Homo sapiens: one gene and its partners. The protein of the gene in region 5 purifies or fractionates together with the protein of the main gene of each other region. This does not show direct contact. Each region holds a gene or a part of one and is shown on either strand. Other genes may lie near its edges.

Evidence for each region.
Region 1: the proteins of MKI67 (region 5) and MYH14 purify together in Homo sapiens (affinity purification with mass spectrometry; one large-scale study listed by BioGRID and IntAct). This does not show direct contact.
Region 2: the proteins of MKI67 (region 5) and METTL13 purify together in Homo sapiens (affinity purification with mass spectrometry; one large-scale study listed by BioGRID and IntAct). This does not show direct contact.
Region 3: the proteins of MKI67 (region 5) and IFI16 purify together in Homo sapiens (affinity purification with mass spectrometry; 3 studies listed by BioGRID and IntAct, with this or other methods). This does not show direct contact.
Region 4: the proteins of MKI67 (region 5) and HBA1 purify together in Homo sapiens (affinity purification with mass spectrometry, with the first as the bait; one large-scale study listed by BioGRID). This does not show direct contact.
Region 6: the proteins of MKI67 (region 5) and ZFP91 purify together in Homo sapiens (affinity purification with mass spectrometry; one large-scale study listed by BioGRID and IntAct). This does not show direct contact.
Region 7: the proteins of MKI67 (region 5) and YTHDF3 purify together in Homo sapiens (affinity purification with mass spectrometry; one large-scale study listed by BioGRID and IntAct). This does not show direct contact.

The regions. Positions count from the first base shown.
Region 1 is NC_000019.10:50,280,122-50,283,621, forward strand, and holds part of MYH14 (myosin-14), read left to right. Parts: coding exon 1-20; intron 21-109; coding exon 110-262; intron 263-1,472; coding exon 1,473-1,721; intron 1,722-3,500. UniProt on the Homo sapiens protein: Cellular myosin that appears to play a role in cytokinesis, cell shape, and specialized functions such as secretion and capping.
Region 2 is NC_000001.11:171,784,660-171,788,159, forward strand, and holds part of METTL13 (eEF1A lysine and N-terminal methyltransferase), read left to right. Parts: intron 1-1,219; coding exon 1,220-1,419; intron 1,420-3,075; coding exon 3,076-3,271; intron 3,272-3,500. UniProt on the Homo sapiens protein: Dual methyltransferase that catalyzes methylation of elongation factor 1-alpha (EEF1A1 and EEF1A2) at two different positions, and is therefore involved in the regulation of mRNA translation.
Region 3 is NC_000001.11:159,016,407-159,019,906, reverse strand, and holds part of IFI16 (gamma-interferon-inducible protein 16), read right to left. Parts: intron 3,375-3,500; coding exon 3,207-3,374; intron 1,679-3,206; coding exon 1,256-1,678; intron 1-1,255.
Region 4 is NC_000016.10:175,377-178,022, forward strand, and holds HBA1 (hemoglobin subunit alpha), read left to right. Parts: upstream 1-1,303; 5' UTR 1,304-1,340; coding exon 1,341-1,435; intron 1,436-1,552; coding exon 1,553-1,757; intron 1,758-1,906; coding exon 1,907-2,035; 3' UTR 2,036-2,146; downstream 2,147-2,646. UniProt on the Homo sapiens protein: Involved in oxygen transport from the lung to the various peripheral tissues.
Region 5 is NC_000010.11:128,099,292-128,102,423, forward strand, and holds part of MKI67 (proliferation marker protein Ki-67), read right to left. Parts: intron 2,411-3,132; coding exon 1,967-2,410; intron 1-1,966. UniProt on the Homo sapiens protein: Protein that associates with the surface of mitotic chromosomes and acts both as a chromosome repellent during early mitosis and chromosome attractant during late mitosis.
Region 6 is NC_000011.10:58,606,563-58,610,062, forward strand, and holds part of ZFP91 (E3 ubiquitin-protein ligase ZFP91), read left to right. Parts: intron 1-3,267; coding exon 3,268-3,477; intron 3,478-3,500. UniProt on the Homo sapiens protein: Atypical E3 ubiquitin-protein ligase that mediates 'Lys-63'-linked ubiquitination of MAP3K14/NIK, leading to stabilize and activate MAP3K14/NIK. It thereby acts as an activator of the non-canonical NF-kappa-B2/NFKB2 pathway.
Region 7 is NC_000008.11:63,189,121-63,192,620, forward strand, and holds part of YTHDF3 (YTH domain-containing family protein 3), read left to right. Parts: intron 1-3,500. UniProt on the Homo sapiens protein: Specifically recognizes and binds N6-methyladenosine (m6A)-containing RNAs, and regulates their stability. M6A is a modification present at internal sites of mRNAs and some non-coding RNAs and plays a role in mRNA stability and processing.

The DNA of each region.
Region 1 (3,500 bases), on a different chromosome or scaffold from region 5:
CCCAGCTGCACGATGCCCAGGTGACCCTGCCTGCCCTTCGGCTCCACCGTCACCCTCCCCTCCTTGTCCTCCCAGCCACACCTGACATTGCCGTCTCCTCCATCTACAGGAGCTGCTGCAGGAGGAGACCAGGGCGAAATTGGCCTTGGGGTCCCGGGTGCGAGCCATGGAGGCTGAGGCAGCCGGGCTGCGTGAGCAGCTGGAGGAGGAGGCAGCTGCCAGGGAACGGGCGGGCCGTGAACTGCAGACTGCCCAGGCCCAGGTGAGCAGCCCTACGTAAGACCTTCAGGGAGGCACAGCCCCCCTCACTGCTCCTCCTGGGTTCCCCAGCTCAGGGATGGCCATGCTGCCCACCTTCTCATAGGCCAGACCCATGGGTGCCTTTCTCATCTCTGACTCCCCCTTACCCCCCACAGCCCATGCCCAGCCCTGGCTGTCCTGACCCCTGACTCTCAGCCTCATCCCTTGTCCCAGCTCCAGCTCAGCCCCAGCTCCAGTGCCGTCCTCTCCCATCTAGATCCTCCTCTTGGCCTCTGGGCCTCCAGCCTCTCCCCTAACAGCTCATCCCCTGCACAGCCCCAGAAGCTTCTTTCTTTACCTGGAGCTGACCCTGTCCCTCCTCTGCTCACAGCTCTCCCACGCCTCCCCAGTACTCCTAGACAAAGTCCATGCCTCTCAGTCAGGCATTGAGGCCCTGCAATCTCTGGTCCTTCCTCTGCCTTTAGCTGTATTCATCTCTATCTCTACTTTCCTATTTTATTTGAAAAAAACCTTTTATTTTTCCAGACTTAGCATTAGGCTCCCCTGTGGGAAGTTTCCTGACCCGTCTTCTCTTTCTCCTCTGTCCCAACTCCAGTCACCTTGGGCTGGGACTGTCTCTGCCCATGAGTCTCCCCACCAGACTGAGAGCCCCTTCAAACTAGAATCCCATCAGAGTTAGATCCAGGTCTGTAGCACAGCCTGATATAGGGCCTGATGTATGGTAGGCGTTGAGAAATGCCTATTGAATGAATGAGTGATGGTACGTGCCTGCAGATATCCTTCAACTGGCAGACTTCTATGCATACTTCAAGACCCATCTCAAATGCTCCTCCTTCAGGAAGTTTCTCCTGAATGTTCTAAACAGATTCTGGGCACTTCCTGTGGACCTCCATAGCTCCCATACTGCTACCTTAACCCCTATCACCCTGGCTGTGACTCTGTGTCTCCCCCAGCAGCCGAGGGGCTCCCCAGGAAAGACTCCAGGTCTGATTCACCTCTGCATCTTGGAGGGAGTAATTTTAATTCCCTGGAAGAACTAGGGCTCATAGTATTCACAACTTCACACCACTCAGAGGCAGAAGAGCCCAGCAGAATGACCCCTTTCCCTCTTCAGGCCTCAGTCTCTTCATCCTGGAAATGGAGCACCACCAGCTTACACCTTGGTCACTCATGGCCGTGACCACCAACCACCCTCTCTCTCCTCCCCTCAGCTTTCCGAGTGGCGGCGGCGCCAGGAGGAGGAGGCAGGGGCACTGGAGGCAGGGGAGGAGGCACGGCGCCGGGCAGCCCGGGAGGCCGAGGCCCTGACCCAGCGCCTGGCAGAAAAGACAGAGACCGTGGATCGGCTGGAGCGGGGCCGCCGCCGGCTGCAGCAGGAGCTGGACGACGCCACCATGGACCTGGAGCAGCAGCGGCAGCTTGTGAGCACCCTGGAGAAGAAGCAGCGCAAGTTTGACCAGGTGGGGCACCTCAGTTCACCCAGCCGGGGAATCAGCAAGTCCATCTACGCTTCCCATGGTCGTTGTGAGGAACCAGTAATCCGTGCTGTCACGGCTCAACTAGGCAGTTGTAGTGGACCAGGAAGCAAGACCCTTCTTTGCTCTGGGCCTCTGTAAAATAGGACATCCCTCTGTCCTGATTCATGCCTCTTGCCACAGCATAATTCCTCGTAGCACCCACTTTTACTTTCAGAGCTGCCCTGGTTTTTGGATGACAAAATATACGAATACCTTCAGTACCCCAGAGATTGCTTATGAGAATTAAATCAAATAACTCATCTCACTTCTGCTGATTCACGGGGTACCTCAGGCAAGTTGCTTTTTCCATCTCAGCTTCAGTTCGCCCATCTGGAAAATGGCAATAATACCAAGCATCTGGCAGCCTGAGGATGAAATAAAAATCACAGAACCTTAGAGAGTTCAGATCAGGCAATCCTGAGGTTCAGATCCCAATTCGGCCTCTTGATGGCTGTGTGGCTTGGGCAAATTGCTCAACCTCTCTGTGCTTTATTTTATTCATTTAGAAAATGCAGTGTGAAGCTGGGCACTGTGGCTCATGCCTGTAATCCCAGCACTTTGGGAGGCCAAGGCGGGCGGATTGCCTGAGCTCAGGAGTTCACAACCAGCATGGGCAACACGGTGAAACCCCGTCTCTACTAAAATACAAAAAAATTAGCTGGGCATGGCGGTGTGCGCCTGTAATCCTAGCTACTCGGGAGGCTGAGGCAGGAGAATCACTTGAACTGGAAAGGCGGAGGTTGCAGTGAGCCAAGATCGTGCCACTGCACTCCGGCCTGGGTGATAGAGCAAGACTCCATCTCAAAAAAAAAATAAAAAATTAAAAAAAATTTTTTTAAATTGTCATTTCCCTGTAGGTGGTGCAGTATGTTTTTCTAGCTGACTTACGATTTCTCTCTTTATGTTTGGTTCTTAGTGGTTTGACTGTGATATGCCCAGCTGTGGGTTTTTTGTATTTATCCTGCTTTAGATTCACTGTGCTTCCTGTAGCTGTGGGTTGATGTTTTTGATCAAATGTGGAACATTTCAGCCATTATTTCTTCAAATATTTTTATCTCCCACTCTCTCTCCTTCCCCTTCTTCTTGGACTCCAAATACATATGATTTGATTGTAATACTCTTCCACAGGTCATTGAAGCTTTATTATTTTTGGCATCTTCTGGAATTTTATATAAATTATTTTCACATAAATCTCTTTTGGGATGGGCTTATTTTACTCAAAATAATTTTTTTTTTTTGAGACAGAGTCTCGCTGTGTCACCAAGGCTAGAGTGCAGTGGCACGATCTCAGCTCACTGCAACCTCCACCTCTCAGGTTCAAGCGATTCTCGTGCCTCAGCCTCCCAAGTAGCTGGGATTACAGGTGTGCACCACCATGCCTGGCTAATTTTTGTGTTTTTAATAGAGACGAGGTTTCACCATTTTGGCAAGGCTGGTCTCGAACTCCTGGCTTCAAGTGATCCACCCACCTCGGCCTCCCGAAGTGCTGGGATTATAGGAGTAAGCTACCGCACCCAGCCTCAAAATAATTAGTCTGAGATCCATCCATATTTTTGCATATCAATAATGTATTCCATGTATCAATAATGTATTTTTGCTGCTGAATATTATTCCTGTGGTATAGATCAGCCACATTTTGATATTCATTAACCTTTTGATGAACATTTGGGTTTTTTTCCAGTTTTTTTCTAGTTATGGATAAAACCTTAGTCTTTCTCAAAG
Region 2 (3,500 bases), on a different chromosome or scaffold from region 5:
GGCATGATGAAAGGAGAGTAATAGCTCTCTAGCAACCTACTTGGAGTTGAGACCTATTCCTTTTCATCTGCCATTGCAAAGGCTTGATGAAGTGTGAGAATGGGGTTGGTAGGGAAGAGAGAGAATAGAGATAAATTTAGGAGGTCACATATGATATAGAGATGCTAGTTACTTTGTAGCATGGAGTAATGGAAGTAATGCTGGACTAGCAAGTCTAAGACATAGGTTCTAGTCCCAGCTGTAGCCTGTGAGCTGCAGGACCTGGGGAAGTTGCTGTGCTTCTCTGCAAAATTTGGAGAGGCAGCATAGGGTAGCAGCTAAAAAAGTGAGCTCTGGAACCAGACTGTTTGGGTTTCAGTTTTGGCTCAGTCATTTCCTGATGGTGTGACATTAGACAGGTTACTTTTCTTTCTCTGCCTTGATGGGATTGTAACTCTGGTGTAGTTGTGAGAAGTATAAAAGCTCTTAGAAATGGTACCTGGCCTTGGAAGTGCTGTGTAAATGTTAGCCATTATTACTGAAAGCAGTAAGTTATATCAGATTTATCTTAATAAGGATAAAAAAGATAGTAGGAGGAAGTGCTTTCAAAAGTGGAACATTGTAGACAAATGCAAAGTGTTTATGGTCTTGGTGTTACGGTAATTTGTTTCCTGGTGACTGAGCTAGTTTTTCAAGTATTCTATAATTCTGTCTGTCCATGTGTGGAAATAAATAGTGCAGTGAATACAAGCGTGGGTAGAGTCTGGGGCTAGACTGCCTGGGTTTGAGTCCCAGCTTCACCATTTACTTATTGTGCGAAGTTGGGCAAATAGTGTAACTTCTGTTTCTCAGTTTCCTCATATGTAAAAATGGGAATAATACTACTACCTGCATCTTGGACTGTTGGAGGATTCCATTAATATATATTTGTCAACAGCTTGGAGTCATGCCTGGCATGGCTTATTTGTGTTGGCATTACTGCTGTTTTTCTTGTGGTAGGTGTCTGCCTCCTTCCCCTACGGACATGCCCACACTTCTTCTCCACCCTTGGTCCTGCCTTATGTCTGATGGGCTGCTTTGCCCTAGATGTTGTGAACTAGAGAATTGTTAGCTCCTCAGTGGGTCACAGTTGGGGAAGATGCTGGTCTTGGACAGGGACTGGCTCCCTGCCGTTTGGGCCATATTGGTTGTGGGCTTGATCACTTTCCAGGACTCCCTGTAACCAAGTTCTTTTTTCTAGTCCCTCAGGGCCGGGAGACCGAGTGGCTCTTTGGCATGGATGAGGGCCGGAAACAGCTGGCGGCCAGTGCTGGCTTCAGGAGGTTGATTACAGTGGCCCTTCACCGAGGTCAGCAGTATGAAAGCATGGACCACATCCAAGCTGAGCTGTCGGCTAGAGTCATGGAGCTGGCCCCAGCTGGGATGCCCACCCAGCAGCAGGTAACAAAGCTTTCGTACGGCTTTCATGGGTCTCTGAAGTCATGTTAGCAGCCAGGGAGGCAGAGGGAGCCTTGGCAGGAGCTAGGACTAGAGTCTGTGACTCTTCATCTAATCCTGGAGGGGTATCAGCAGCTAAGGGTTAAATGGCAGGGAAACTGTCCTTTGCCCCAGGCAATGAGAGGAAAGTGAGCACAGTAGCGTCTGTGTCTGGGGGAGCCTCTCAGAGTCCATAGACATGGCAGGATGGAAATGCTCTACTCATTGCGGGCTTCAGTTCTTCCTAATTTGAGTTGCTCTGACTGTGGATTTCTCCTTCCACACTGGACTTTCTTGGTCATTTTGCTTCTTAGAACTATCATTATCTGAGGGTATAAATGGAAGAGGGCCAAAACAGCTCAGCACAGTTATCCAGGTATTCACATTGCTGGTCAGGTGTTTTACTGGGAAGGAAACCGAAGGTTTTTGCCTAAGTGGTGATATGGTATTATCAGTTAACACCAACTGTCTTGTGCTATCCTGGTCACCATGGGTAACGAACAAGTGATTTTACTAAAAGAACTTCATGATGAGGAGTTGATCCTTTTTTTTCTTTTTTGAGATAGGGTCTTGCTCTGTTGCCCAGGCTGGACTGGAGTTCAGTGGTGTGATCACGGCTCACTGCAGCCTCAGCCTCAACCTCCTGGGTTCAAACCATCCTCCCACCTCAGCCTTTGGTAGTAGCTGGGACTATAGGTGCAAGCCACCATACCTGGCTAGTTTTTTTTTTACATTTTTTGTAGAGACAGGGTCTCCCTATGTTGCCCAAGCTTTGATCCTTCTTGATAGGTGGGAAAGCAAAGGTATCTAGAGGCTTGGTGCAAATAGTAACAGATCTGAAAAAAAAGAACCCAGGCTCCTGGGTTCCTGGCCTGTGGTTTTGCCCACTAGGCTGACTCGTGTTTACAGATGAATGTAAGTTTGATTCTTCCTGGCCAACTTTGGGGTTGATGACCCCTATTTCAAGGAAGCCCAGATCCTCTGAGGAGCTTCATTTGTGGCCTCTCACCAGTGCCTGAGTCTGCAGGGTCAGGAGATATTGGTGATTATTAACTAGTCTTATAGGTCTTTAAAAAAAGAAATAAAGATAGGGGGAAGGAGTGGGAAAGTTTAGGGGGAAAGTATATTTTTCTCCTAAGGTTCAGAAAAGTGGGGGAAAAATAGATGAGAATAATCAGGGGAAAGGAATATCTCTCTAGATTTGGAGTGGTTGTTTCTCCCATGGATTTTGTTATCTTTATTCTTGTGTAGATTCCTTCTCATAATCACAGCCCCTTCCTGAGGGTTCCCTCTAGCTTTTGTTATCCTGGACTATTGAGAGTTCTTTTAGGGGTTACTGATGAGAAAAACCCCTAAAAGAACTTGGGGAGAATCAGCTGCATCTCACTAGTTGTTTGGGAGATCTTTATGTGTCCAGTTGATTTTCAAAAGATGAATTAAACCTTTGAGATCAGTTCAAAGGCTCCAGAAAAGTACTTTAATAGAATGGCAAATCTGTGGAGTAGTTGTTGTCTAGAACCGTGGTATGGGGATATATACACACAAAAGGGAAGGGGTTATAATTTCTCTTATTTCTTAAATGAGCTGCTGTTTTGACCACATCTCTGGTTGTACCTTCAGGTCCCCTTTCTGTCTGTGGGTGGGGACATTGGGGTCCGGACCGTTCAGCACCAAGACTGCAGCCCCTTGAGCGGTGACTATGTCATTGAGGATGTGCAAGGGGATGACAAGCGATACTTCCGTCGACTGATCTTCCTCAGCAACAGGAATGTGGTGCAGTCCGAAGCCAGGTTGCTGAAGGATGTGTCTCACAAAGGTGAGGTGTCATAGGCACAGTGGTGGGACCCAAGTGGCCGTGGCATGGACTAGATTTCTTGGGAGCTTGGCCGAGATGTAGGATGGACCTGGGTGTCTGTAGGTTCTTAACCATCTGGACTCTTAGGGTGTGAATAGCTATAAGCAGAGTACATTCTGTTCTTGAGCAGAGCCTGGCTCTGAAGTGATAGGGGACGTGAGTAGTGAAACCAAATACAGTGATAATCACA
Region 3 (3,500 bases), on a different chromosome or scaffold from region 5:
CTACTTTCTGCATTTACTGAGTCTCTTCCAATATTTGTACCCCCTCCTGAAACCAAGTCCTTGAGCTCAAACATTCCAGCTTTTTGCTCATTACTCATCATCCTAGAACTGGATTTGTAAGAATCATCTCTTTAAGAGTGTGTATATAGGCCATGCGCAATGGCTCATGCCTGTAATCCCAGCACTTTGGGAGGCCGAGGTGGGCAGATCACGAGGTCAGGAGACCAAGACCATCCTGGCTAACATAGTGAAACCCCGTCTCTACTAAAAATACAAAAAATTTAGCCAGGCGTGATGGCACACGCCTGTAGTCCCAGCTACTTGGGAAGCTGAGGCAGGAGAATCGCCTGAACCCAGGAGGCGAAGGTTGCAGTGAGCCGAGATCGCGCCACTGCGCTCCAACCTGGGCGACAGAGACTCCGTCTCAAAAAAAAAAAAAAGACTGTGTACAGAAAGTAACGCAGGTTAATGAGTTGTTCTAGGAAACAAATATAATGGGTAATGAAGTATTGATCAGATAAATTGCTTGAATCAATAGCAGAGGATAGATGCTTTTTTGCGGGGTGGAATGTCTCATGCTAACTGGTTATGAATTTGGACAGGAACATATCAGGAAAAGCACTCTGTACTCTATTTTTTTTTTTTGTTATTTATATATAAATGACAAATTTAGATTACCTGATTTTCCAAGTATCATCCAAATTCGTATTTCCCAATTGTTCCATTTCTTTATGATGAATTAGTTTCATTTGGTCAGAACATTGTCCTACCTACTTTCTGCATTTGTTTTCCAGCCATGAGTAGTCAATTTATTTCTTATTCTGACTGTCACAACCAGAACTCAAGCCTCAGAGGACAATACTTCATTCAAAATAAAAATAATGTGATTTTTATGACAGTAGAGATAATAATCAAAGGGATAAACTTAGTATCATGTGTGTATGGATGTAGACCTCACAATGTCCTTGATCACTTAGCATAGATAATAACAACTGATAAAGTCTTAAGGTTTCTCAGTGAACATTATTGTAAAGACTACAGTTTAATGCTCTGGGAAGGAGAACATGGGAAAGAAATATTAACAGGTCCCCTAATCCCAGTCTTATCTTCAGAGAAGTCTTTATCCACCTGTCATTAGTCTTCAGAGTCCTGGATTCTAATATCCAGTTTATAGGCAAAGCTTCATCTCACACATCAAGACTTTTAATTTCAGGTGTTGGTGGAAAAATGAAACGAAACAATTTTGAGGACTTACCTTATGTAGCATAAATACCCCATATACAATATTTCCTGAAGCTTGTTTGTGAAGAATATCAATCTTCAGAGTTTCCTTTGCTCTGTTGATGATTTTATTTGGAACCTCAAACGTTTGGTTAGGACCAGCTTCAGATACAGTAGATTCTTCATTGACCTCTAGGAGACTATCATATTCCAAATAATCTGATATGATGATGATTTTCTTTCCATTGAATTTCTCCTTCAAGCTGGTGTTTAAAACCTTCACATGGAAGAACTGTGTCTGTGTAGCCACTGTAGCATGAAACATTATTTTTTTCTCCATTTCTGGGGTCTCATATTCAAATGGCTTTGTTGTACTCAGTACCTTCACTATCACTGGGCGTTTTTGGAGAACATTTCTTCTGGGAGTTACCTGACATTTGGCCACTGTTTTCGGGTTCTGTGTATGATAGCACAGGAGAACAAAGAAAAATGTCTAATTGAGAAATACAGAACTGCTATTCAGTGACCTCAGTATAACACAGGGCCCCAAAACTTGCACAGATGTTTAGAGCTGGAGTCAGGATAGAGAGGGATTGCGAGCCAGGGCAGAAGATATCTTAAACTGGTACAATAGCAAGATGAAGTAACAGAGGAGACCATATAGTGAAAAGATGACCTTTCTGTAAACAGAATCAACCTTAAGAAATAAAGCATAAGAGCAACATAAGACCAGTGGATACTGAAAGCCAGTGTCATGAAGTAACTTAATAAATTTTAGGGCCAGGCGCGGTGGCTCACACCTGTAATCTCAGCACTTTGAAACGCCGAGGCGGGTGGATCACCTGAGATCAGGAGTTTGAGACCAGCCTGGCCAACATGGTGAAACCCTGGCACTACTAAAAGTACAAAAATCAGCTGAGTGTAGTGGCAGGCGCTTGTAATCCCAGCTACCTGGGAGGCTGAGGCAGGAGAATCACTTGAACCCGGGAGGTGGAGGCTGCAGTGAGCCGAGATTATGCCACGGCACTTCAGCCTGGGTGACAGAGCGAGACTCTGTCTCAACAACAACAACAACAACAATAAATAAATAAATAAATTTTAGAATGAAATAATTTCTTATACTATTTCTCTTACCAGCTTAAAGTGCCAGAGCCTAAAAATAGACAAAGTTAAATGACATTTAAAATGATCAATAAATACTAAAAAAAAATAAAAATAAAAAAAAAATGAAAAATGGTGCCCACCACAAACTATAGACACAAAGAGTGTTCAGTTATCACCAGTGTAGACAGGGCAATTTAAAGAGCACATTTCATAGTGTTCCTACCCAAGATTCAGTTTGCTTACAGCAGGTGAGAACACAAGTAGGATAAACCCCTCAGAATGCCATCATCTCAGTAGGTTCAGGCTGCAGAAACTCTACAGAGTGTCATTCCCACCACCATAGCCTTTCTCAGTGTCAGGGCTCTAGCAGGTAGCATGCTAACAGAAACCTGGGGCTCAGAAAGGGTTTTCTTTAACATCTTTACTCTTTAACATCCCAGTCTCCTTAAACTGCGATAGAACAGTTTTAATGCAGGGGAGGTTGTTTAATCTACAAGAAAAAGAGCTGAGGGTATGGATAACCTCATTCACAAACTAGCAGGTGCTGGAGAGGTCTGACATGGAATACTATAGTGAACCAAGGGAAGAGGTATGAAGGACATGGGAGCAGTAGACAGTGAGCCCACAGCTGACAGTTCTGTACTGCATAGCTCTCTCTCCCTTCCCCAAACAACACAGAACAGAAAACTTCCTGCAGTCAGAGATAATGTCAAGTTCATCAAGTATCCCTGTGAAAGCAAAAGATCAAAATGTAGTGGTTTCTCAATATGTACATTGGATTAACTAGCAAATTATCGATGCAATTTTTAAGTAACCGGTGAAATCAGTCCTTTACTTTGGGTTGAAAAAAACAAAGCAAAATGGGACCAGGAAGAGTGTACCTCAGTTGAAGAACTGTTGGGTGGAGCTGACAATGAGGTCTTGGGAGATGGGGAACGGCCCATGGCTGTGGACATGCCGGCTCCTGCAGGAGAGGGAGGCTGAGTCTGTTCCTCGGACACCTTACTCCCTTTGGGTCCAGCCTTTTCTTTGGTTGATTTTTTTCTTTTCTGAAAGTGGTTTGATTTTCCTGTTATTCGTTTTCAGTGCCAAATGAAGTAGAGCACATTTTCATTATTGGATAGTAGTTTTATTATTCCTAAGAAGATGTTTCTTGGAAACTTGAGAGGTTGCTG
Region 4 (2,646 bases), on a different chromosome or scaffold from region 5:
CAAAAAACATCACTTTTCATGCACAGGGATGCACCCACTGGCACTCCTGCACCTCCCACCCTTCCCCAGAAGTCCACCCCTTCCTTCCTCACCCTGCAGGAGCTGGCCAGCCTCATCACCCCAACATCTCCCCACCTCCATTCTCCAACCACAGGGCCCTTGTCTCCTCTGTCCTTTCCCCTCCCCGAGCCAAGCCTCCTCCCTCCTCCACCTCCTCCACCTAATACATATCCTTAAGTCTCACCTCCTCCAGGAAGCCCTCAGACTAACCCTGGTCACCTTGAATGCCTCGTCCACACCTCCAGACTTCCTCAGGGCCTGTGATGAGGTCTGCACCTCTGTGTGTACTTGTGTGATGGTTAGAGGACTGCCTACCTCCCAGAGGAGGTTGAATGCTCCAGCCGGTTCCAGCTATTGCTTTGTTTACCTGTTTAACCAGTATTTACCTAGCAAGTCTTCCATCAGATAGCATTTGGAGAGCTGGGGGTGTCACAGTGAACCACGACCTCTAGGCCAGTGGGAGAGTCAGTCACACAAACTGTGAGTCCATGACTTGGGGCTTAGCCAGCACCCACCACCCCACGCGCCACCCCACAACCCCGGGTAGAGGAGTCTGAATCTGGAGCCGCCCCCAGCCCAGCCCCGTGCTTTTTGCGTCCTGGTGTTTATTCCTTCCCGGTGCCTGTCACTCAAGCACACTAGTGACTATCGCCAGAGGGAAAGGGAGCTGCAGGAAGCGAGGCTGGAGAGCAGGAGGGGCTCTGCGCAGAAATTCTTTTGAGTTCCTATGGGCCAGGGCGTCCGGGTGCGCGCATTCCTCTCCGCCCCAGGATTGGGCGAAGCCTCCCGGCTCGCACTCGCTCGCCCGTGTGTTCCCCGATCCCGCTGGAGTCGATGCGCGTCCAGCGCGTGCCAGGCCGGGGCGGGGGTGCGGGCTGACTTTCTCCCTCGCTAGGGACGCTCCGGCGCCCGAAAGGAAAGGGTGGCGCTGCGCTCCGGGGTGCACGAGCCGACAGCGCCCGACCCCAACGGGCCGGCCCCGCCAGCGCCGCTACCGCCCTGCCCCCGGGCGAGCGGGATGGGCGGGAGTGGAGTGGCGGGTGGAGGGTGGAGACGTCCTGGCCCCCGCCCCGCGTGCACCCCCAGGGGAGGCCGAGCCCGCCGCCCGGCCCCGCGCAGGCCCCGCCCGGGACTCCCCTGCGGTCCAGGCCGCGCCCCGGGCTCCGCGCCAGCCAATGAGCGCCGCCCGGCCGGGCGTGCCCCCGCGCCCCAAGCATAAACCCTGGCGCGCTCGCGGCCCGGCACTCTTCTGGTCCCCACAGACTCAGAGAGAACCCACCATGGTGCTGTCTCCTGCCGACAAGACCAACGTCAAGGCCGCCTGGGGTAAGGTCGGCGCGCACGCTGGCGAGTATGGTGCGGAGGCCCTGGAGAGGTGAGGCTCCCTCCCCTGCTCCGACCCGGGCTCCTCGCCCGCCCGGACCCACAGGCCACCCTCAACCGTCCTGGCCCCGGACCCAAACCCCACCCCTCACTCTGCTTCTCCCCGCAGGATGTTCCTGTCCTTCCCCACCACCAAGACCTACTTCCCGCACTTCGACCTGAGCCACGGCTCTGCCCAGGTTAAGGGCCACGGCAAGAAGGTGGCCGACGCGCTGACCAACGCCGTGGCGCACGTGGACGACATGCCCAACGCGCTGTCCGCCCTGAGCGACCTGCACGCGCACAAGCTTCGGGTGGACCCGGTCAACTTCAAGGTGAGCGGCGGGCCGGGAGCGATCTGGGTCGAGGGGCGAGATGGCGCCTTCCTCGCAGGGCAGAGGATCACGCGGGTTGCGGGAGGTGTAGCGCAGGCGGCGGCTGCGGGCCTGGGCCCTCGGCCCCACTGACCCTCTTCTCTGCACAGCTCCTAAGCCACTGCCTGCTGGTGACCCTGGCCGCCCACCTCCCCGCCGAGTTCACCCCTGCGGTGCACGCCTCCCTGGACAAGTTCCTGGCTTCTGTGAGCACCGTGCTGACCTCCAAATACCGTTAAGCTGGAGCCTCGGTGGCCATGCTTCTTGCCCCTTGGGCCTCCCCCCAGCCCCTCCTCCCCTTCCTGCACCCGTACCCCCGTGGTCTTTGAATAAAGTCTGAGTGGGCGGCAGCCTGTGTGTGCCTGAGTTTTTTCCCTCAGCAAACGTGCCAGGCATGGGCGTGGACAGCAGCTGGGACACACATGGCTAGAACCTCTCTGCAGCTGGATAGGGTAGGAAAAGGCAGGGGCGGGAGGAGGGGATGGAGGAGGGAAAGTGGAGCCACCGCGAAGTCCAGCTGGAAAAACGCTGGACCCTAGAGTGCTTTGAGGATGCATTTGCTCTTTCCCGAGTTTTATTCCCAGACTTTTCAGATTCAATGCAGGTTTGCTGAAATAATGAATTTATCCATCTTTACGTTTCTGGGCACTCTTGTGCCAAGAACTGGCTGGCTTTCTGCCTGGGACGTCACTGGTTTCCCAGAGGTCCTCCCACATATGGGTGGTGGGTAGGTCAGAGAAGTCCCACTCCAGCATGGCTGCATTGATCCCCCATCGTTCCCACTAGTCTCCGTAAAACCTCCCAGATACAGGCACAGTCTAGATGAAATCAGGGGTGCGGGGTGCAACTG
Region 5 (3,132 bases):
TTTAAACACCCATTTTTAGAATCGACCTCCTCTGCAAAACCCCAAAGGCTTACTAGGTATTATGCAGGTCCTTAGTTGCAGAAAATTAATTTTGAGGTTGGAAATAAGTTTTAAAATATATTCCATTAACATTGTTTTTCTTGACTTGAACTGCTTTTATTATGCAGTTTTTTTACACTTAAATAATGTGATCTTTTCATACAGAAGTTCCTAATGCATTTTTAAGCTAATTCATAATAAAATTTCTTCATCGATGCACACATTTTCACAAACTAAAAAATGTCACTCAGAAAAAGTGAATCCAACCAGGATTAAGTCTTTTGGGTCTCCTAAACCAAGGAACCCCTGTAGACAGAAGCATGCCCAACTTGCATGCAGGAGACCTGCCTTGGCCTTTACTCTTGCAGTAGTTCTCACCCCTTGGCTAAGGGAGAGGAACCATGGTGAAAAGCATGGCTACAAGCTTCTTACTGGAAAAAATCTATCTTATATATGCATTTTCTAGGACTACCGACACCCACCGAAGAGCTCGGCAAAGAGGAGCATGTGTGTGTTGGGCGTCTCCTGGGTGCTTGTGTGTGAGAAGAGGCTGGAACGCCCCCGGCAGAACACACCAGGCCTGGCTCAGCCTTGGGCCTGGTTGCTCTGTGTTTAGGAATCATCCTAGTTAAAAGATTCGCTTTCACCCTTCTTTGGTTTCATTCTGAGGAAGCAGCACCTTCCAGACTGTGAATTCGGTAAGCGCCTGGAGCCTGCGTTTTATTGTAAGACTCGACGGGTGAACGTGCTGACCCACGTCAGCTGTTGCGTCCCTGGTGTGCCTGTGGTTTCTAGGACCTTGTCTGGCACTGTCGGGTGTCTTCTGCTTCCAGCCTGCCCCAGAAGTACAGTCTCTGACTTAGGACACCTGTGTGGGCATCAGTGCCCTTCTTGAGCCTCTCCTCTTCCCTCTCTGGAACAGTCTATGGGCATCTCCCCACTAGGACTTCCTGCCCACCATCCAGACACACAAGCCCTCCCCCTCCACTGGCTGCCTGGCTATGCAGCAGGTACTGGGGACACCTGGGAATCTTTCCTTTTCTTGGCAGTTGAAGCTTCCTAGTTTGTGCCGAAGAGGGTCTGTCTGGACAGCTGTACTTGCCAGAATTCTGTATCTGAAGAGGTTATTGCTACATGAGTTTCGTTTGCTGAACTCAGAATATGGTAGTTTTAGGTCCAAATTTTGTGTGTGCTAAGAATTAAATTTATATTATATTTTTGTGAATTGCTCACAAAAAGGGAGCAATTCAACCTATTTTTATTTTAGCTAAACCAAGTATTCCCCAGAAGAACACTAATGGAATCTAATCATTCTTATGGATTTGTCCACATGCTTGTAATTATGAGTGGCTCAACTTGATGTGATTTCAGTAGCACTTAAAGTTCATTAGCTTAGATAGTCTCTGGCTGGAGGAGGGTTGGAGGGCAGACGCATCCCCCACTGACCAGGAACTCTCACATAGTGAGCATGTGTCTCAGGGACATCCCAACTTCTGTTCCTTCTGCCTTTCCAAAGAATGCCTTGGAAATTTTTCTGTTTCAATAGTTTTTTTTGGAAAAAGAATTTTCCTGTTTCAAGAGGTGATTTTGAACTACAGAAAGGCTGAAGACATCTACCTACAATTGTATCATGAGGTACATCATAAGCAGTCAGAAATTAGCCACTAGACAAATTCCTTTTCTTTCTGAAGAAAGTCTTCATAACGTGAATTTGCTATTTGAAGTGAAATTCCCAAAGTAGACACAACAAAATATAACTAAAATGACCAAATTTATGTCTTAGCATAATGCTCCTTCCATTAATGTAACTGGGAGCTGGCAGAGTGCTGTTGAAGATAATGCTTTTTGTTTGCCTTTGCAACCTTGGGCAAAAAATACATCAAAACATTCTGTGTCTTTTAAAACAGGGAAACAGTAAATGGCTTACCTTCTTTGGATTTTCTGCACACCTCTTGACACTCCGCGTTACTCTCTGCACAGATTTGCTCTCCAAAGTGCTTGCTGCAGGCTGGCTTTTTGTCTTTCTTGATCTCAGGCACATGGAGTCTGAATTTCCTGCTTCTCCTTTCCCTTTCTGATTCTGCATGAGAACCTTCGCACTCTTCTGCCCTCCGCTCTCCTCTGCCACCTTAGGCTGGGAGCTCTCATTCTGTCTAGCAGACCTCAAGCACCTTTTGTTCTCAGTGACTTTGTCTCTAGGTATGGGTTTCCGGGCTCCATCATCTGGATTCTGAATGTCCATCTCTGGGGAGGTCTTCATGGGCTTCTTTTCATTTCTGTTTATTTCTATTCTTTCTGCTAATACAAAGACCTCAGTTATTTGCTGTTCTGCCTCAGTCTTATTTTGGCGTCTGGAGCGCAGGGATATTCCCTAAAGAAATGAGAAGACATCCACAAAATTCCAATAATTAGTAAAACAAACTTCAAAATTCAACAGGGAGCACAATCAACAGTAACCTAAAAGGAGAAATCATTTGAAAATCACACACTGATGAATTGTCTAAGAGACTTGTCATCTAGGATAGTCAAGGTAATGCCTTGGTACTTTGCTCCTATGGAGAAATGACTGTCTCTGCTGACAAATTATAAATAAGGAATTCAGGATAAATTTCAATAACAATGCCTAATAAGATATATATCAAATCTAATTTTTACAGTTTACATTATAGAAAGAAGGTCCGTTATTCATTCATTTACAGGGAGTAAATGAATTCCTATTCCTTTAACCATCACTGCTAAGGCAGAACAGGAAATTGCCATTTCTGGAGTTTCCCCAAACTTCTCTGCATGCAGTGGGAGCCTCTCTATCTAACAGTCCAGACAGTTTCCCCTTCTCAAGAATACACATTCCTTATTGATATTGTTCTGATAGTTAAAATAGTGACATAGATAGGATTTTTAACCCAGTCCTGGTCTTGGTGACAGTATCCAGAACATAGAACTGAACCACCCACCTATCCTCTGATCAATTTTTTAAACATTTGAAGATGAACATTACTCATTTGGCTTTTGAGAAACTCTTCTAAGTTTGCATTAATCATGTTTGACTAGTTCTTTTCCCATATTAGTCTATTCCCTCTATAGGTCCCAAGA
Region 6 (3,500 bases), on a different chromosome or scaffold from region 5:
TATGATATGAAATTTAGGATACAAATGATCCCATCATGCAGGTACTGAGCATAGTACCCAATAGTTTTTCAACCTCCCCCCAATAATCTCCAGTTTCTGTTGTTGCCATCTTTATGTCCATGAGTACCTAATGTTTAGCTCCTACTTTGGTCTCTGTGGTCTCTAAAGGTTCTGGTCCTTTCGCTTATATTCATCAAGTGATTTGACAGATTTCCTTAAACATCTTTACTCACCTTTTTCTTGATTCAGTGCTCACTTGGCTTTTATAACCTTTAACTATTGTTAAGAGTTTCCACAAAGTTGATTCTGACAGTGTTTGTTCATGATATGTGTTTATTTCTGTGGAGGGACATTTTTGCTGTCATCTCTGACAGAGTGGTTTTTTTTTAAGACTAGATTTTTAGGGGACGGGAGCAGTAGTATTCAATAAGATAGGCTATTATGCCTTATTCATAATGGTAAACTATTGTTATCAAATTGGCATCATTTATCCAGTGAGTAAAATCTACAGTATAGGAGGTTGTGGGCATACCATCCTTTCATCATGAAGAAGAAAGGAGCTTTGTTGAGGACAGGAGGTTATGGAGTGAGTTCAAAGTCCAACTCGGTACAGTTGGGTTAAGGAAAAAAAAGATGTGTCTATTATTAAATGTTGTAATACTTCATAGGTGGTGTTGAATTGTTCTTTTTGATGAAATTGTTTTAAAAGTAGTCATGACCTATATGTAAAAGTCCTTCATTATTAATCTCAAAATATGATTTCTAAATCTAGGTGTCCTTAGCTAACCTTGTGATTTTGAATAAGCTTCTTTTTTGGGCTTCCAGATACTTTATGGGTAAAACGTAATGGATTGTGCTTAGACTGAATGGCCTTTGAGGTATTTTCACCTATATTAATGTTTTATTTTTTATTTTTTCTATTAAAATAGCTCAGATAGGAGGGTGATGCAATAATGAATGGAAAAAGACAGCTGAAAGGAAATGCACAACTGATTTTGATGGTTGTTTAGAACTGTTCGCACTGCTATTTATCTCTGTGTTTCAAACTAATTTCATTACTTCAGTATATTGTCATAAAACTTTCAGTGTAATTAAAGCTAAAATAGCCTATAGTCACCACATTGCTCCATAGTAAACTATTTTTTAATGTTAAGCAAAAATGTTGCCATACTGTATATATAGTTTTGTGTCTTTTTTATACATTTAACAATATTTTTGCTGATAATTCCATGTCATTTTTAACATAAACCTACCTCTATATAGTATTCAATCATACTAAGGTATCATGGTTTATTTAAGCACTTTATCTTTGACAGAGGGTTAGGTTGTTTCTGTTCTTTGCTATTATAAACATAATACAGTTAACCTCCATGTGGTAGTTTATATTTCTAGGGCATATACTTAAAGGTGAAATTACTACACATATTTTTGGACCTACCTTGGAAGTAACCAGTACTTAAGAATTTCTTGTACTTCTTCCAGAAATGTTATTATAGTATGTAAGATATATATATATACACACACACACACATACTGTAATGACTAATGTGTAGCACTGTTTTTAAGTAGTAGAAGAGTAGACAACTAAACATTCAAAGGGGGATTGGTTTCATAAGTTATATATTTGTGTGTATATATATCTTACATATATATCTCTCTCTTACATATGTACACAATTATTTGTGAAACCAATCCCTCTTTGAATGTTGTTTTCTACTCTTCTACTACTTAAAAACAGTGCTATATGTTAATCATTTATAAATATGATTGTAATTTTGTAGGATAAATTTCTAGTAGTTGAACATCATGTGGAAAGGTATATACATTTATAATTTTGATGTATATTGTCAAATTGGTCTGCATGGAGGTTTTGCTAATACATTATCATATGTGTGTTAGAGGACCTGTTTTCCCACAGTCTTGACAATACATTATGTTGTCAAATATGATCATCCCCAATATGATACATGAAAAATGGTGTCATGCTATCGTTTTCATTTGAGTCTCTTGTTCTGAGTGGATTGAGCTTTGAGCTTTTGTTTTTTGTTTTTTCTTTTTTTGGAATGGAGTCTTGCTCTTTCGCCGAGGCTGGAGTGCAGTGGCGCAGTCTCAGCTCACTGCAACCTCCACCTCCCGGGTTCAAGTGATTCTCCTGCCTCAGCCTCCCCAGTAGCTGGGATTGCAGTTAGGCACCACGACGCCTGGCTACCTTTTGTATTTTTGGTAGAGACGGGGTTTCACCACGTTGGCCAGGCTGGTCACAAACGCCTGACCTTTTGATCTGCCCGCCTTGGCCACTCAAAGTGCTGGGATTACAGGTGTGAGCCACTGAGCCCGGCCTGTTAGTTCCTATTTTTCTATTGGGTTATTAGACTTTGTTTATGGTTGATTTTTGCCATGAGGAAAATTGTTTTTATGTGTATCTTATGACCTGAAATTTTGTTTTATTATTGGGCCTTTCCCGTTCTGAGTTTATTAAAGAATCTTCTATTGTTAAAATGGGCTCAATTCTAATGTACTTTTTTTTTATATAGGTCTAAGTATTTAGCTACGCCAGGTATGAAAGCCAGTTTCTGAGATTAACTTTTTATTACTTACTACTCAAGAGAGGATGACCTACCGTACTTCACCCTTAAAACATGACAAAATATAGGATAACAATAACAGATTTGTGTGTGCTCCTGTACACAATGTCTTATAGGACAACTGAAACAGAATAGCACCAGAGCTGGACTTTACCATTCAATTGCTCTATAGATTAGTTCAAATTTATGGTGTGGTTCCAAGAAAAACTCTTGATTAGAGTGAAAAGTACTCCTGTTAGGAATTCCTCTTTAGTAATTTGTTATAGACTTGTTTGGTTGTAAATAACATCTAGATCTATGGTTCTTTCTTTTTGGTGCCTCTGTAGTTCTGGTCATCTTTTTGGGACTAATTAATTTAGTTTCTTTTAACTTAGATCTAAAAGGTAGAATTTCATGAATCCAGTTACTTAAGTGTATTTTGCATAGTTAGCATTGCATTTTTTAGAAGATAAGGCAGTATAAAATTACTACTTTGCAACATGAAGTAATTTCTTTAGCATGATGACATTAAGGATAAGTTTTATCTCATTTTCCTTTTTTTATTATTTCAATTAAAGTCTTCAGTTTTTTTTCCTTTGAAAATATTTAATTTATCTTCAACTGTATTTACAATTAGTAGATATACAGGGATGGTTATTGGTTAACTGTAAACTTAAAGAGAATGGTATGTCTTTTTATTTAGATCCCAAGGAAGAAAAAGAGGAAGAAGACGATTCTGCCCTCCCTCAGGAAGTTTCCATTGCTGCATCTAGACCTAGCCGGGGCTGGCGTAGTAGTAGGACATCTGTTTCTCGCCATCGTGATACAGAGAACACCCGAAGCTCTCGGTCCAAGACCGGTTCATTGCAGCTCATTTGCAAGTCAGAACCAAATACAGACCAACTTGATTATGGTACAGTGCAACTAGAATATGGC
Region 7 (3,500 bases), on a different chromosome or scaffold from region 5:
ACCCTCTGTAAGATTGAGGGAGACATTCCTGAAATAAAACATGCTGTTTATCCTTGTATTATATTGGCCAGAATATTTTTATTTTTATTTTTTAAAAATATCCTATTGAGTGGCCCATATGGGGATTAGCCCCCCAAATATTGGCTAGACTTTGATCACAGGGCCACAAGAGTCAGTTCAACTAGGGAAAGTTTTCTCTTCCAAACTGTAACGTAAAATTGGGGTCCTATTTTTAGGTGGAAAGAGAAAATGGATGGGCTTTTCTATAGGGGATACATTTAAATTTCTTTTGAAACTTAGTAGGGGTAAAGTTAGAAGCTCCTCCAGTAAATAATGCTTGTTACTATGGAAAGCATGTTCTTATGGAATGCTTGTTCCTATGTAGAAATTAAGATAAAGAGGTAACTTAACTCTATGTAAAATCAGTGATTGTTTCTGTGTGTGAAGCTGAATATCTTGTCTTTGTGGTTGTGTGCAGCACAGGGAAGTGCTTCAACATTCCTCAGAGGGAAGGTGTTGGAATAATGACCCTAGAGCAGTAGTTTCCAAACCTTAAGTCACATAAGTGTTAATTGGGGTGTTTATTGAAATTGCAGATTCTCGAGACCCATCCCTTGGTATATTTGATAAAGGAACTTGCAGTGTACTTTTTAAGTATAAACATTCCAGGTGATTCTGGTGCTAGTTATTGATTGCTGTGTTGGATTGTTGGAAACTTTGCTTTGGAGTAATTAATACAAATGACTTTAAGGCTCTGCTGAACCTTTTAGATGGGTTGCTGAATATAATTGTGTTTTCTCCCACTTAAATATGAGAAATGAGAGAAATGGGATCAAAAGTAGCTACTGAGTCTTTCAGTTTAGCAGTTAAGTAAAGTGGTCATATTGTAACTGCCATTACAAGTAGCGCATCAGGAGAAATGATTTGAGGTATGAAAGGTGGGATGCAAGTTAAGACTTCATTTTTAGATTGTGCTGATTTTAAGATACCTTTGAGAAATATAGGCAGCAAAATCTCTGATTAGGCAGTTAGATGTCCGAGTCACAGATTTGGGGACCTTTTGTTCTTAAACAGTTAATAGCATGGAAGTGGGATGAGATTACTTAGGACAAAGGATACATGGCAAGGAAATACCAACTTTTCTTTCGCCCACCACTGAGGAGATAATCACCCTTCTGTGTCTTTTTTTTTTTCTACCAAACTTGAAAATTTAATCCTGGTTTTGTTATAATGTATTTGGTATGTTAATATTATGTAGTTGTTTCAGGAAATTTTTAATGACAGGTATATATTGTAGCTGTATTATTATATATATTGTAGCCATATACACAACAGTGATTTAAACTTTAATATTACCCTTATATTGTTTCATTGTTTTGTTAAATAAAGTTTATCCTAAAGCCGCCTCCTTACATATTTTAAGTCCAGCCTAAAGGTTTTTCTGTACATGGCGAACTATAACAAGTGGAGGTATAAACAGACCGCAGCCTACTCTTGTGCCAGTGACCAAATTTTGGCTGAATCAAATGTAGCCAACTGTTCAAATAAGGCAAATACCAACCTGTAATCAATCCAGCTGTTTATCTCACTTCCGTTTTCTGTATATCACTTTTCCTTTTTCTGTCTATAAAACTTCCACCACAGGGCTGTGCTTGAATGTCAGAGCCTACTCTGGCTGGCTCTGTGATTCGTGAATCACATTCATTGCTCAGTTAATCTCCTTTAAATTTAATTCAGCTGAAGTTTTTCTTTTGTCACGTTGCTGCCACCCTTTTTAATGCCTAACCCACCTTTGACAGCTCTATTTTGAACCTTGTTTAACTTATTATTTATTAGCAAGCCTTTAGATCCATAAAATGTCTTTGGTCAGAATATGTAAGCAACCATTTAGCTGGGTATAGAATTCTTTCTAGTCAACAGCCTTTTCACTTAAAGTACTATGTATAAGCCTTGCTTTACAGTTATGTGGTTTTATATTATGGAAAATTCTGAGGCCAGCCTACATTTTTTGTTTGTAAATAGCTGTTTTTTTGGTGTGTGCACAAAAGATTTTTCTTTATTTTTACATTATGAATGTAAATGTGAAAACGTGTACAATATGAATATTGTTTTCTGTAATCCTTTGTCTGCAGGCCACTTTTTTCTATTAATGTCAACAAATATGTTGAATCTTTGCCCTTGAGTTCTGTTGGTTCTTTATTCTTTTTCTCTTCATTTGGAGGATTTGAATTTTCCTGCTCACATATTTTTCAGTGTATTTTATTTGTGCTGTTTCTGTGATTTGTGAGGTTTTGCATTCTTCACTGATAGTATTTGTTTGCTTCTATTATCACATTCAGCTCCCCCTCTTAACTCTGTTTTCTTAATGGAATCCCTTGATCCTAGAATTCATCTTGATTTTATTGAGCACAAAAGACTGTGTTTAAAACTTATGTCTGCTTTCTGTACTTAATGTTTTTAGAAACTTTATATCTTTTTTCTTCTAAAAAAAATTAAATATAATAAAATTGTAAATTTCCTTGACCAGCCAGTTTATAGTCAAGCCCTCTCTCTCCCTCTCATTACTGAACCACTGATTGGTTGTTTGTCCCTATAAGACATTTTCCATATTGTCATAATTGAAATTATGTACTATATGATCTTTTAAGATGTTTATCTTTCACTCAGCATGGTATCTTTGCAATTCATCTATGTCGTTGTGTAACTCAATTCTTTGTTCCTTTTTATTACTAGGTAGTTTTCTATTACATGGATGGATGACCATTGTGTCTATTCCATTCATCCTTTGAAGGATATTTGGGATGTTTTCCTTTTGGGGGTAATGTAAATAAGGCTCCTATAAGAATTTGTGTATACTTAAAATATGTATATTTTTAAATCATACAATAAAATTCACTTTTGGCGGGGGCGTACAGCTCTATGAATTTTAACATATGTAGATTTGTGTAACCACCCTATCAGTTAGGATACAGAACAGTTTCGTCATCCCCCAAACCCTCCCTTATATACTAGCCTTTTGTTTTTCCATGCTTCCCCCATGCCTAAGCCCTGACAGCCACTCATCTGGACTCATAATTTTGTAATATCCTTTGTGGTTGTGGTGGCTTCAGGACTGTCTTTGGGCTTTTTGTGTTTAGTCATTGAACCAGTAAGAGAATCATTGAGTTCAGTTATTTGTCTCAGAATGGGTACTTTTACCCTCCCCACCCCGTTTCTTTCATTGCTGGATGCTAGTTGCATATACCTTTCTCTTTGCAAATGTGGAGATGGGAGAGTCATGCTGTAAATTGATTTTACCAGTTAAGTGATTGACCAGCCTGTGGAGATTTAAAAGGGAAAGCCAGTATAATGGGTTGTGCTAGGTATTTGACTGTCCCTTAAGTTTGAAACCACTGTGTTAGAAACCAGTTTTCCTTGCTTGTTAGCTGGTTAGCATATAGGGTACCATGTGTTTTTGTCCAGTTTTCTTCCTGGTACTTTTAGCCTTGTGTAGGCAGAAT